2 separate regions of the Homo sapiens genome follow, and region 2 is linked to region 1. The links come from fine-mapping of genetic effects on gene expression. A gene starts in region 1. The other region holds a variant in brackets. All regions are shown on one strand. Distances are between the middles of the regions. Region 1 holds the start of STRBP (spermatid perinuclear RNA binding protein). Region 2 has its middle 27 kb from the start of CRB2.

Evidence for each region. PIP is the estimated chance that this variant, and not a neighbour inherited with it, causes the effect.
Region 2: its variant is the best candidate, but not a certain one, in a credible set for the expression of STRBP in monocytes (Quach 2016, PIP 0.86).

The regions. Positions count from the first base shown.
Region 1 is chr9:123,265,302-123,270,668 of GRCh38, reverse strand. It overlaps STRBP (spermatid perinuclear RNA binding protein), which reads left to right and starts at 2,083. Exons shown (of 19, transcript NM_018387.5): 1 at 2,083-2,233. RefSeq lists silencers at 1,658-2,137, 2,308-2,357 and an enhancer at 1,757-2,257.
Region 2 is chr9:123,326,097-123,331,463 of GRCh38, reverse strand. No RefSeq gene overlaps it. Among named protein-coding and RNA genes, the nearest start is that of CRB2, 27 kb to the left of the region's middle. RefSeq lists enhancers at 4,205-4,704, 4,705-5,206. The variant G/C (reference allele first, on the strand shown) is at 2,788.

The sequences.
Region 1 (5,367 bases):
TATATAATTTGCATGCTTTTGTCTCAGTGTTTGGAGTTACAAACCCAATAAAGATATTGAAACAAGAAATACTATTGAATCCTTAATGCCATGCTGTTCTTCTATTTTAAAAAAATTAAAAATGTAACCAAGTGCTGGACACCGTGCTGAGTGCCTTAGATATACGGTTGCAATGAATCCTTCTAACAACCCTACAATATGCAATACTATTAGTCTCACTTGGCAGATGAGTAAACTTAGACTAGAGAGATTGATTTTCCAAGATCACACAGCTAGTGTGCAGTGAATCTGGATCTTTACAGTGTGGCGCCTCTTCTCCCTCTGATACTTATGGGCATCCTACAAAACCCAGCTTTAATGATCTCATGTCATGTGCACGTGTAGTCTTCCCTAACACACTTAGGCAGGAAGATGACCCTGTCCTCAAGGGACTGAGAGACCAGGGAGGAGACAGACAGCTAAACAATTACAATCTAGTGCCATGAGAATACATATAGCTTAACAGGACTATGTTCAAGCCGAGGGAGCTTAGACCATGTGTCTGAGGCAGCCAAGGATCTCCAGAGAATATACTCTGAGCTGATTGATAAGGATACCCAGGATTTTTTTCAGGAGGGTCAAGGAAGGTGTGAGTGGTCAGAGGTGGGGAGAGGGTTTAGAAAGGGATTTGCGGCCTGGCATCTGTCTCAGGAGACTCAGGCTCCTACACACCTGGGCATACTCTGGAAACAACAGTACTGTAGTTCTGTGTGGCTGGAGGGTCACATTGGCCTGAAGGAGGGGCAAAGGGAAGGGCGTGCACCTTGAAGCTTAAGGCCAGATCACCAAGGCCTTTTCAGTTGAAATTGGGTTTTTTACACTTTATTCTGTGAATGAAACAGAGCTGTTAAAATATTTGAGCCTGGTGTGTTAGAAAGATGAAAAGGGGCCCCAAGGGGGCTGTTGTGGGGAGTCCCTCCTCAACCCCTGGGCTGTTCAAGGTCCTCTGTCTTGGCACTGAGTGGTCAGGTCGTTTCTGCTCCAGGCTGGGAATTGTCTTAGGGCAAAGACATTGTCTCATTTGCCAGTGCATCCCTGCAGCCTGCAAACCCCCCGGTATACAGCAGGGACTGTATACTGGCAAGCAGAATGCTGGGCACCAAGAACTTGAGGCCAGGGACTGTAGAATAGAAAGCGAACCTTTAATTCTTCCCCAGCGCCGCCCCTGGCACAGAGCTGGTAGGTGTTCAGCCAAAGTCTGACCCAACCATAAGGAGGTCAGAGAGGTCCTGGGCCCAAACTCAATCCCAGCGAGGTTCATTATAGGCAGGTGAAGGAGAGGTGATTGTAGCAGCTTCTGTTCAGCGACTGCTGTGTGCCAGGATTCACACCTATTGTCTTATGCCATCTCCCCAACAGCTCCTAAATTGGAATTATTGTCCCAGTTTTCCTGATGAGGAAACTGAGGCTCAGAACGGTTCTTGGTAACTTGGCCAAGGTCACACAGCCAGCAAGTAGGTGGGCGGTGGCACAAGTCAAAGCCTACTGGCCTGCCCCTCTACCTCGGGAGGCAGTGCGACGCCTACTCCATTTGTGTGGCTGCTGGGGTTGGGGGGCATCCCGCACTGGGGTGCGGGGCCCGGGGAAGGCGGCTAGCCGCCGCGGCTCGGCGCAGCTCCCAGGTTCGGAAGTTACGAAGTTTCCGTGCATTTCGCTAGCCTCCCAGCGCAGCTCGTCTCCGCTCCGCCGCAGTTACGCCGCTAGCGCAGCGGGGCTCAGGTGCTGCAGCGAGCGGGGGCCTGGGGCCGGGAGGAAGGCGGGGACGCAGTTTACGTAAGCGTCCGCTGGCAGGTGCATAAGGCCGCCGGCGGCGAGTGCTCCCTGCGCGCTCCCAGGTGCGCACTTGGCGCAGGCGGCGGCACAGCAAGGCGGCGGCGGGCGCTGGCCGGCGCTCTCAGGTGCGGCAGGACGCGCGTGGAGGGGGCGCGCGGCGAACGAGGGGGCGGGCTTTCCGTTCCCCAGCAGCCGCGGGGCCCGCCCCCTGGCCTGGCCAATGGGCGCGCTCGACGGTGTCACGTGCTCGCTGCCGCCGCTGCCGCCGCCGAAGCGGAGACCGGAGCCGCGAGCGCCACCAGGGCAGCAGCCGCCGCAGCCGCCGCCGCTGGGCAGAGGAGCCGGAGACGCGAGCGGGCGAGGTGGCGGCGGCGGCGGAGCGGGAGCGGGTACCGGGCGCGGGCAGAGCGCGGCGGCGCGGGTAGGCTCCGGCGGCGGGGCGGGCGCCTGCGCGGCGGGCCGTCCCGGGCGGGCGGCGGTTAAGGCGGCGGTTGAGGCGGTTGGCGGAGCCGGCCCGGGCCCCGCATTGTTTGTTGTGCGTCCTTAGCAGCGGCGGCGGCGGTGGCGGCCGAGGCGGAGAGCAGGGAGCAATCCCGGCCCCGCGGCTCCGGCATTGTGGCCGCCGCCGCCGCCGCTGCGGTGCCCCGGCCGCTTCGGGCAAGGGCAGCGGGCAGCCTTCCTCACCTTCGCGGGGACGGGGTCCCGGCCGATCAGGGGAGGGCGTGGGCAGGGTTGGGGGACGCGGTGCCGGGAGGTCTTCCGGGACGGAGGGCTCGGGGCTCGGGGCAGGTGTTGGAGGACATTGGGGGCAGGAGCTGGGGAGAGGCTTCGGGGGGCAGGCGGAAGGTGTGGGCAGATTTGGGGGTAAATAGGGGTGCAGAGGGATCCGGCCCAATGGAGGAGGAGAGCCTTCAGGCAGGTTTGGGGGGCCCCCTGGGCCAGGCGAGTGCGAGATGGAGGACATTCCGTCCGGTGGGGGGGGGCACTATATTGTGGGGTTCAAGAGGGAATGAGGGGGCTTTTGGGGAGGGCAGGGACGAGTGGGGTGGGAATGGAGGGAGAAGACTGGGGACTCGAGCAGGACTGGAAGGAGCGCTGCGTGCCAGGGGCAGGGAGTGGGGCGGGTATTAGGAAGGCCACCGGGACGCCCGTGAAGGGGAACGATGGAGGAGGGGGTCGGGGCAGGGGGAAGTGAGGGCAGGCAGGGAGCGCCTGAAAGGGAGGGAGGGGAGCAGGGTGCCTAGGCTTCTGGGGTGATAGGGAAATGAAGGGTAGGCCCAGGGGCTCCAGGAGACCTGCGAGGGGTGTGAGGGAGTGTGTGGCCAGGTGTATAGGGGAGCCTGCAGGGAGGCGGGAGGGGGTTGACATGTAAGGATAAAAAGGCAGGTATCTGGTGCTCAGGGAAGAGGAGTATGGGGTGGAAGGGGGAAGTTCATTGGGGCAGAGACTTAGTTTGAGGGCTTGCAGAGAGAGGTGGGGACAGTAGGAGAAGGGTGATGGGGATGGAGAGCAGGAGGTGTGTGGGGCATTTAAAGGATAGCGGGAGAAGTGCGTGAAATGGAGGGTGTTTATGCAGGAAGTATGGAAGAAGGTGGGATCAGCAAGAGAGGGAATTTTGAGGTAGGACGGAGGGTGAGGGGTTCTTGGCAAGTGTTGGAGGACGTTAGGGGCAGGAGCTGGGGGAGAGGGACAGGTGTGGGGTGGCGTGGAGTGTGTGAGGTGGAGGGCAAAAGGGGGTGGGGAAAGGGAAGTGTTCTTGGAGTGGCAGGTAAAGTGTGGGGACAAATGGAAGGAAAGATTTCTGAGGCGGGAAGTGTGGAGCGGTTGGGGAGGAGGAAGGTGGAGGGGAGGGTGAGAACGAAATCAGTAGAGGGGGACAACGGGATAGACTGGAGGGGAAGGTGGACAGGTCTGGAGTACAGTAGGTGGAGGGAGGGAAGCACAGGTTTGGGGCACTGAATTTTGTGCTGTAGGGAGAAGGGAGGTAGGGAGAAAGAAGGAAGGTAGACAGGCTATTTTGGGGTAGAGGATGTAGAAGAATGCTTAATACCTATAGTGGAGTAAGGGAAGGGCAAGGCAGAGGTGTATGTGGACATGTCTGTAACTAGAAAGGCATAGGTGATGGATTGGAGTGGTGGTGGTGGTGGTGGGGGAAATAGGATGCCCAGGTTTAGGGCAGGAAATGACTGCTTAAGTTGGAGAGAGCTAGGAACACAGGTTGCTTAAGAGAGTATGGAAGATCCAAGGAGTGGAAGTATGGGGAGAGATTGGAACACTTTGAGTTTGAGAGATGAAAGGGGCCAAGATTTTTAGGTCACTGAGAGTCTAAGGAAGATCAGGCAGAGTGCAGAAGTTGGAAAAATAACTAAATGGAGAGGATTAAATTCCATACTGAGAGAAACTGGAGATTGAGGGGTGGGGGGACCTGGATCCTGGAATGATGTTAATGGAAAGTGGAGGACATTAAACTCAGTGTCATATCTGAAAGTTCATACTCCTAGGGTCAGAGAGATCGTTGAGCCTGCTTTTAATTCCAGAACCCAGTAAATGAGGAAGGGGGAAGGGGTAAGGGAGAGCTGAGTGCACATCCCCAAATTTGGGAGAGGTGTGTAGTGGGTATCATCCTAGCATATTGGTTTGACGAGTGGACAGAAGGGCCACACAGGGTCACGAGGAGCGCACCAAGAGTGAATGGAAATGGGATTGCAGCAGGTGCAGGGCAGATGTCTTTGTGAAACTGGAAGAGACCAGGCCCAGTGGCCAGTAGCATTCAAGGGCTATGCATAAGAGAGGAAGAAAGGGATACCTTGGTGCAGTGTCTCAGATACCCTGGTGCTTTCTGGGTAATGGGTCAGTATTCAGGCAGCATGGGGTGATGTAATATCTGAGTCCCATGCTATAGGCAGACAGAAGTAATGTACACCTAGCTCCTAAAAGTGGCAGAATTGGAGCTTTCTGACTCTTAACACTCTTTCAAGGCGTGAATAACTGATCTGGATTGTTGACTTTTTCTCCCAAATGGTTCAGGTAAAATTTAGTTGGAGGCTTTTGGATTCTCTGGTATTTTGATTTGAGTTGGGAAGTGTAATGTTAGCTTTATTGAGGAAAGACACTTATGGGTTGGGCGGACATATGGCCTTCAGCTTGCCAAACACATGGGAAGTAACCTTTAGGGGTTTGAACACAGACATTTATTTCAGTGCAAGTCTCATTCACTGTTCTGTGGCTTGTGTTAGATTCTTAGGGGTTTGAAAGGATTAAGCAAACTACTTTGAGACTGCTTCAGTAAGCAAGGTTTCCTAGAATCTTGGAAAACGATTTCCCTTTTGACAGTTGAAAATTAAGTCTTGTCAGATTTTGCTAAGAAATAAATTTCATCATGTTGCAGAAATAACTTCAATTATCACTCTGTGGGCTTCACGTAATGTGTAGTGTGGTACCTAGTATGATTTCAAATAAAAGGTTCGCTTTGGTAGCTTGGGAGCTTTCTGGGTTGATTAGTTTTCTTCTTTTGTCGATTTAGGAAGTATCTTAATGCAGCCATTGTATGTTCGA
Region 2 (5,367 bases), 61 kb before region 1:
GGTTTCTCAGTCTTGGGTTATTGACATTTGGGGCTGGAGCATTCTTTGTGTTGGGAACTGTTGTGTGCAGTGCAGGGTGTTTTGTAGCATCCCTGGCCTCTATGTACCAGATGCCAGTAGCACCTCATCCCCACTTGTGACAACCAAACATGTCTCAAGATGTCGCCCAATGTCACCTGTGGGGCAGAATCACAGACCACAGTATACAGTCTGTGTTCACTTTGCTGCTCTCTTCCTCTGCTTTTAGGATATGGATTAAAACCCTTCTCTTAGGCCAGGCATGGTGGCTCACACCTGTAATCCCAACACTTTGGGAGGCTGAGGTGGGCAGATCACCTGACGTCCGGAGTCTGCCCAACATAGAGAAACCCCATCTCTACTAAAAATATTTTAAAAATTAGCTGGGCGTGGTGGCATGTGCCTGTAATCCTAGCTACTTAGGAGATTGAGACATGAGAATCACTTGAACCCAGGAGACAGAGATTGTGGTCTCTGCAACAGAGATTGCACCACTGCACTCCAGCCTTGGTGACAGAGTGAGACTCTGTCTCAAAAAAACAAACAAACAAACAAACAAAAACCCTTAGCCTTAGCCTAGAGAGGCAGATCTGGAGACAAAGCTGGCTGCGTGGGAATACCAACTTCTCTACTCACTGGCTGTGTGACCTTGGCCAAGTTGTCAACCTCCTTATGCCTCAGTTTCCCTCTCTGTAAAATGAGGGCCTACACAAAGGTTATCATGAAGTTTAGACTAGTCAATATACCCATGTAACAAACCTGCACATGTACCTACTGTATCTAAAATAAAAGCTGAAGTTATTTTTTTAACGTTAGTATTATATATCCAAAGCATTTAGAACAGTGCCTGGCACGTATGTGTGAACCCCCGTCGTGATCCCAGAGCCTACCTGACCAAGCCCCAGCCCATCTCTGCAGCAACCCTGGTACCTCTCTCCCCATGAGAATAAAAAGAGAAACTGTCCTAGAAGCTAGGGAAGAAGCATCTTTGACAACTTCTGCTGTTCCTACCTTCCCTGATGCACGCTGCTTCCCACCATTCCTGGAGGAGTTGGGAAAACAGCAATAAGGATGGCCTTTGGTCCCAAAGGTTCCCAAGGTAATGACAAAAGCTGCTACTTCCTGTCTCCCTGCAGCTCTCTCTGTGCATGAAGAGGAGGGTAGAGGCACTGCACACTGATTTAACAAACGCATCCGATTAGAACACGGTTCCTTTTATTATCCGGAAAGCTATAAAAATACATAGAAACGAACATATTTTATCACTGGAGTTGGTCTTCACATTTTATGGGTCTGTAGCGGGTGTTTTTGTTTTACCGACATTTGTTAGAAACAAGGTTCTGGAACGTTGTCCTTGTTTGGGTGCTCGTGAGAAATTGTATCCAGAAAGGCATTTCAGGACCTGTCCCTATGGAAACAGCCCCACTGCAGGAGTGTGCGTGACAGGGTGAGTGTGAGTGCGTGTGTGTGTGTGTGTGTGTGTGTGTGTGTGTGTGTGTGTGTGTAGCTAAAGTCCTCCTTTTTCCCAGGAGCAAGGGTGCCTAGGGATTACCTGGTCCAGCCTTCTCATATAGTTGAGGAAACTGAGGCCCAGACAGGGCAGTGCTTTATCCAGGATCACAGAACAACTCGGTTCAGCAACTATTTTCTGAGCGTATTAGTATCACCTTAGCTGCTCTAATAAACACCCCCACCCCAGTAACACAATAGACTTTTCTTGCTCACAGGACAGAGTTCCTGGTTGGTCAATGAGCCTTCCACTACGTGATTCAGGGACCCAGCCTCCCTCCTTATTGTGGTGACACCTTTTCCTAGAACTCAGAATCATCTGCTTTCGTCTGGATGAGGGAAGAATTTGGAGGATTACACATTGAAGGTTTTTATGGTCCAGGCCAGAAGTGGCCCATGTCACTTCCGTCCATGTCCCACTAGTCAAGGCTCAGTCACATGTCATGCCTAACCACAGGGAAGCCGGGAGGTGTCACCTGGCTCTGTGCCCAGGAGGAAGAGAAAGGCTGGTGAACAACTGTCCAGGTCTTGGTGCCTGGGCTGGAAGATGCATGAGCAGAGGAATGAGACAGCAGACCTGCCCTGCCAGAGCTCACAGTCCAGTGTTGTGAGATGGGGATGGGGGAGCAACAGCAAACACAGGTCACTTATGTCCCATGTCCCCAGCTTGAGGTTCAGAATAAGGACCATCTTTTTGCACCCTCGTCCCATTGATCACCAGAAGTCCATTTACTTCTCACAAGAGAGAAGTCCCATGCCAGGGTAAGTTCAAGACTCCCAGTGTCCTTCCTAAGTCAGTCCAAAAGAAGTCAGCAGTCCTGGTTTTTTTTTGTTTGTTTGTTTTCTTTCAGACAGAGTCTCGCACTGTCACCCAGGCTAGAGTGCAGTGGTGCAATCTCTGCTCACTGCAACCTCTGCCTCCTGGGTTCAAGCTATTCTCTTGCCTCAGCCTCCCGAGTAGCTGGGATTACAGGCACCCACCACCACGCCTGGCTAATTTTGTATTTTTAGTAGAGATGGGGTTTCACCAAGTTGGCCAGGCTGGTCTTGAACTCCTGACCTCCTGATCTGTCCACCTCAGCCTCCCAAAGTGTTGGGATTACAGGCATGAGCCACCACGCCCAGCCAGCAGTCCTGGTTTCTAAAAGATTGCAGAGAAGAAGCTGGAAGGTCTGGTTTATTTCCTGAAAGGTCCTATTCATCCTATTCTCTGTCTCAAGCCCAGCAGTATTTCCTTTTTGAGGGGAAAGTTAGGAGCCT[G/C]TATCCTGAGTTTCACGTCATTAGATAATGCCACAGGCCTGAAATCCCAACAAAACAGCACTTAAGAGGGGACATAGCTTAGTTCACGTACGCTTTTTTTTTTTTTTTTTTTTAAAGACATTCTCACTCTGTCCCCCAGGCTGGCTGGAGTGCAGTGGCACAATCTTGGCTCACTGCAACCTCCACCTCCCAGGTTCAAGCAATTCTCATGCCTCAGCACCCAAGTAGCTGGGATTACAAGCATGTACCACCACACCTAATTTTTGTATTTTTAGTAGAAATGGGATTTCACCATATTGCCCAGGCTGGTCTTGAACTCCTGGCTTGGATTATAGGCGTGAGCCATGACACATGGCCCGATGTACACATACACACATATTCTCTGTGTATACATACACACACACCTCAGAACCAGCCATCAGACATTCACCCCTTTGGTTGACCAGCATCTATTAGGAGAATCCCAAGATAGTGGAAGGACCCCCCCCCGCCTCTCCCCACAGAAGCTGCCTGGGACAGATCTTCTGTGCTTCCAGTGACTAGAATATGGACGTGCAGCCTAGAGTGTGGCCAGCTGGACATGCCCTCCCAGGACTCTGTAGAGTGACATTGAGGCACAGAGTCAGTCTGCCATTTAAAGGGTGCCGCCATAGAAGGACATCTCGTGCTGTGTGGGCGTCATCTCCATGGCTGGAGGTGTCAGATGGGGCCACAGTGACCAGCTGGCCGGCAGTCAGCTCCCAGGTGGCAGCTTGGCAGATCTTAACTCTCTGGGTTCTCGTCAAGCCTGTTTCTCTAGTTTCTCCGTCAATTGCATGAGCTACCCGATACTTTTACAAACCACTCCTTCAGGTTAGCTGGAGTCCGATACTTTTACAAACCACTCCTTCAGGTTAGCTGGAGTCTGTGCTTGCCACCAGCAGCCAAGCTCCCTGACTGGTGTCACCTTTGTCTTAGCAGTCAACCCACTCCCATTTCCCTTCACTACCAGCTTCCCCAGGGCCACCCCAGACCCAGACGGGTCCACCAACTTCCACCCTCAAGGGAAAGGCCACGGCTCCCACCACCTTCCTCCAGGAGATGTCTGAGCAAATCTCTAATTAACCTGTCTTTTCACACTCCTTCAATATTGAGTCCTCAAGGGGGCTGTGGACAGAACCAATGTAATTGGTTTACTCTGCGATGCTAGATATTTTATTTGATGCATTTGAAAATATGATCCTGAGAGGCTTGGTGTGGTGGCTCATGCCTATAATCCCAGCACTTTGGGAGGCCAAGGCAGGTGGATCACCTGAGGTCAGGAACTCAAGACCAGACTGGCCAACATGGCGAAACCCAGTCTCTACTAAAAACACAAAAATTAGCTGGGCATGGTGGTGCTTGCCTGTAATCCCAGCTACTCAGGAGGCTGAGGCAGGAGAATTGCTTGAACCTGGGAGGCAGAGATTGCAGTGAGCTAAGATCGTGCTACTGCACTCCAGCCTGGGCAGCAAGAGCAAAACTCTGTCTCAAAAACAAAACAAACAAACAAACAAAAAATCCTGAGAAAGGGTCCACAGGCTTCACTCGATGCCAAAGGGGTCGAGGGCACCAAAAAGGTAAGGATCGCTTGGGACTGCAGCCTCCCAAAGGCTCCACAACAAGCACCCCGCTGGCCTTGTGAGATCCCTACTGGTTTGAGGGCCAACCCACCCTCCCCACACCATTCCTTCTCAAAAGCACTTCCTCCTTTTTGAGACCAGCTCCTCTCCCCACCCTGTCTAGGCAGGTGGGCCCTGCAGTTGTCACGTGACCTCATGTTGCCATATGACCTCATGTTACAGGAGCTGGCACATGACCTCACCCTCCAGCCATAGCTACTGGCTCAGAAGGAGTGGGCTGCTGGCCCAAGCCAGGCCAACCAGGTCCTTCCCCGCAGTTGTTTTTGGTTTCATTTTAAACTGGAACTTGGGGGGAAACAGTTATACTCTCCCCGGTGAGGCCTTTGGAGCTGAGAGCTCTCTTGTTTTCCACAAAGTAGGGGAAGCCAAATGAGTAGCAGAAGGACGCTGATGCTGACAGGGAGAGGAGAGGTGGGGAGGAGAGAGGAGAGTGGGGAGGGGAGGGAGCTGGCTGCATTCGCAGTCCGTCCATCCGTCCGGGGTCTGGCCGTGGCCCTGCCCTCCTGGCAGTATGGTTATTTATTGCCTCCTTAATTTCCCCTCTTCTTGCCCCAGTTAGAGATGGAGTTTGCCACTGCCTGTCTTGTTCTGCTGAATCGCAGAGTCTGCACAGAGCCAGACACATAGTAGGTGTACAGCTAACATCTGTGAACAAGTGACTGTACAAACACAGGCATTGGAAAAAGTGTACAAGGTCCAGAGAAGAGAGGAATTAAGTCTCCATGGGGGGATGTCAGGAACTGCTGGGGTGGGAGGTGACATTCAAAGGTGAGAGGAGGTTTCTGGATGGCTATGGTGGGGGAAGATGGGGAGGGATGGTAATTGAGGCTAAAGAAAACAGCTGAGACTAGGTTGAAAAAAGGCTTAACTATCAGACTGGAAATGACTTTACAACTTGTGGCTGAGCTAGGTCTAAAGC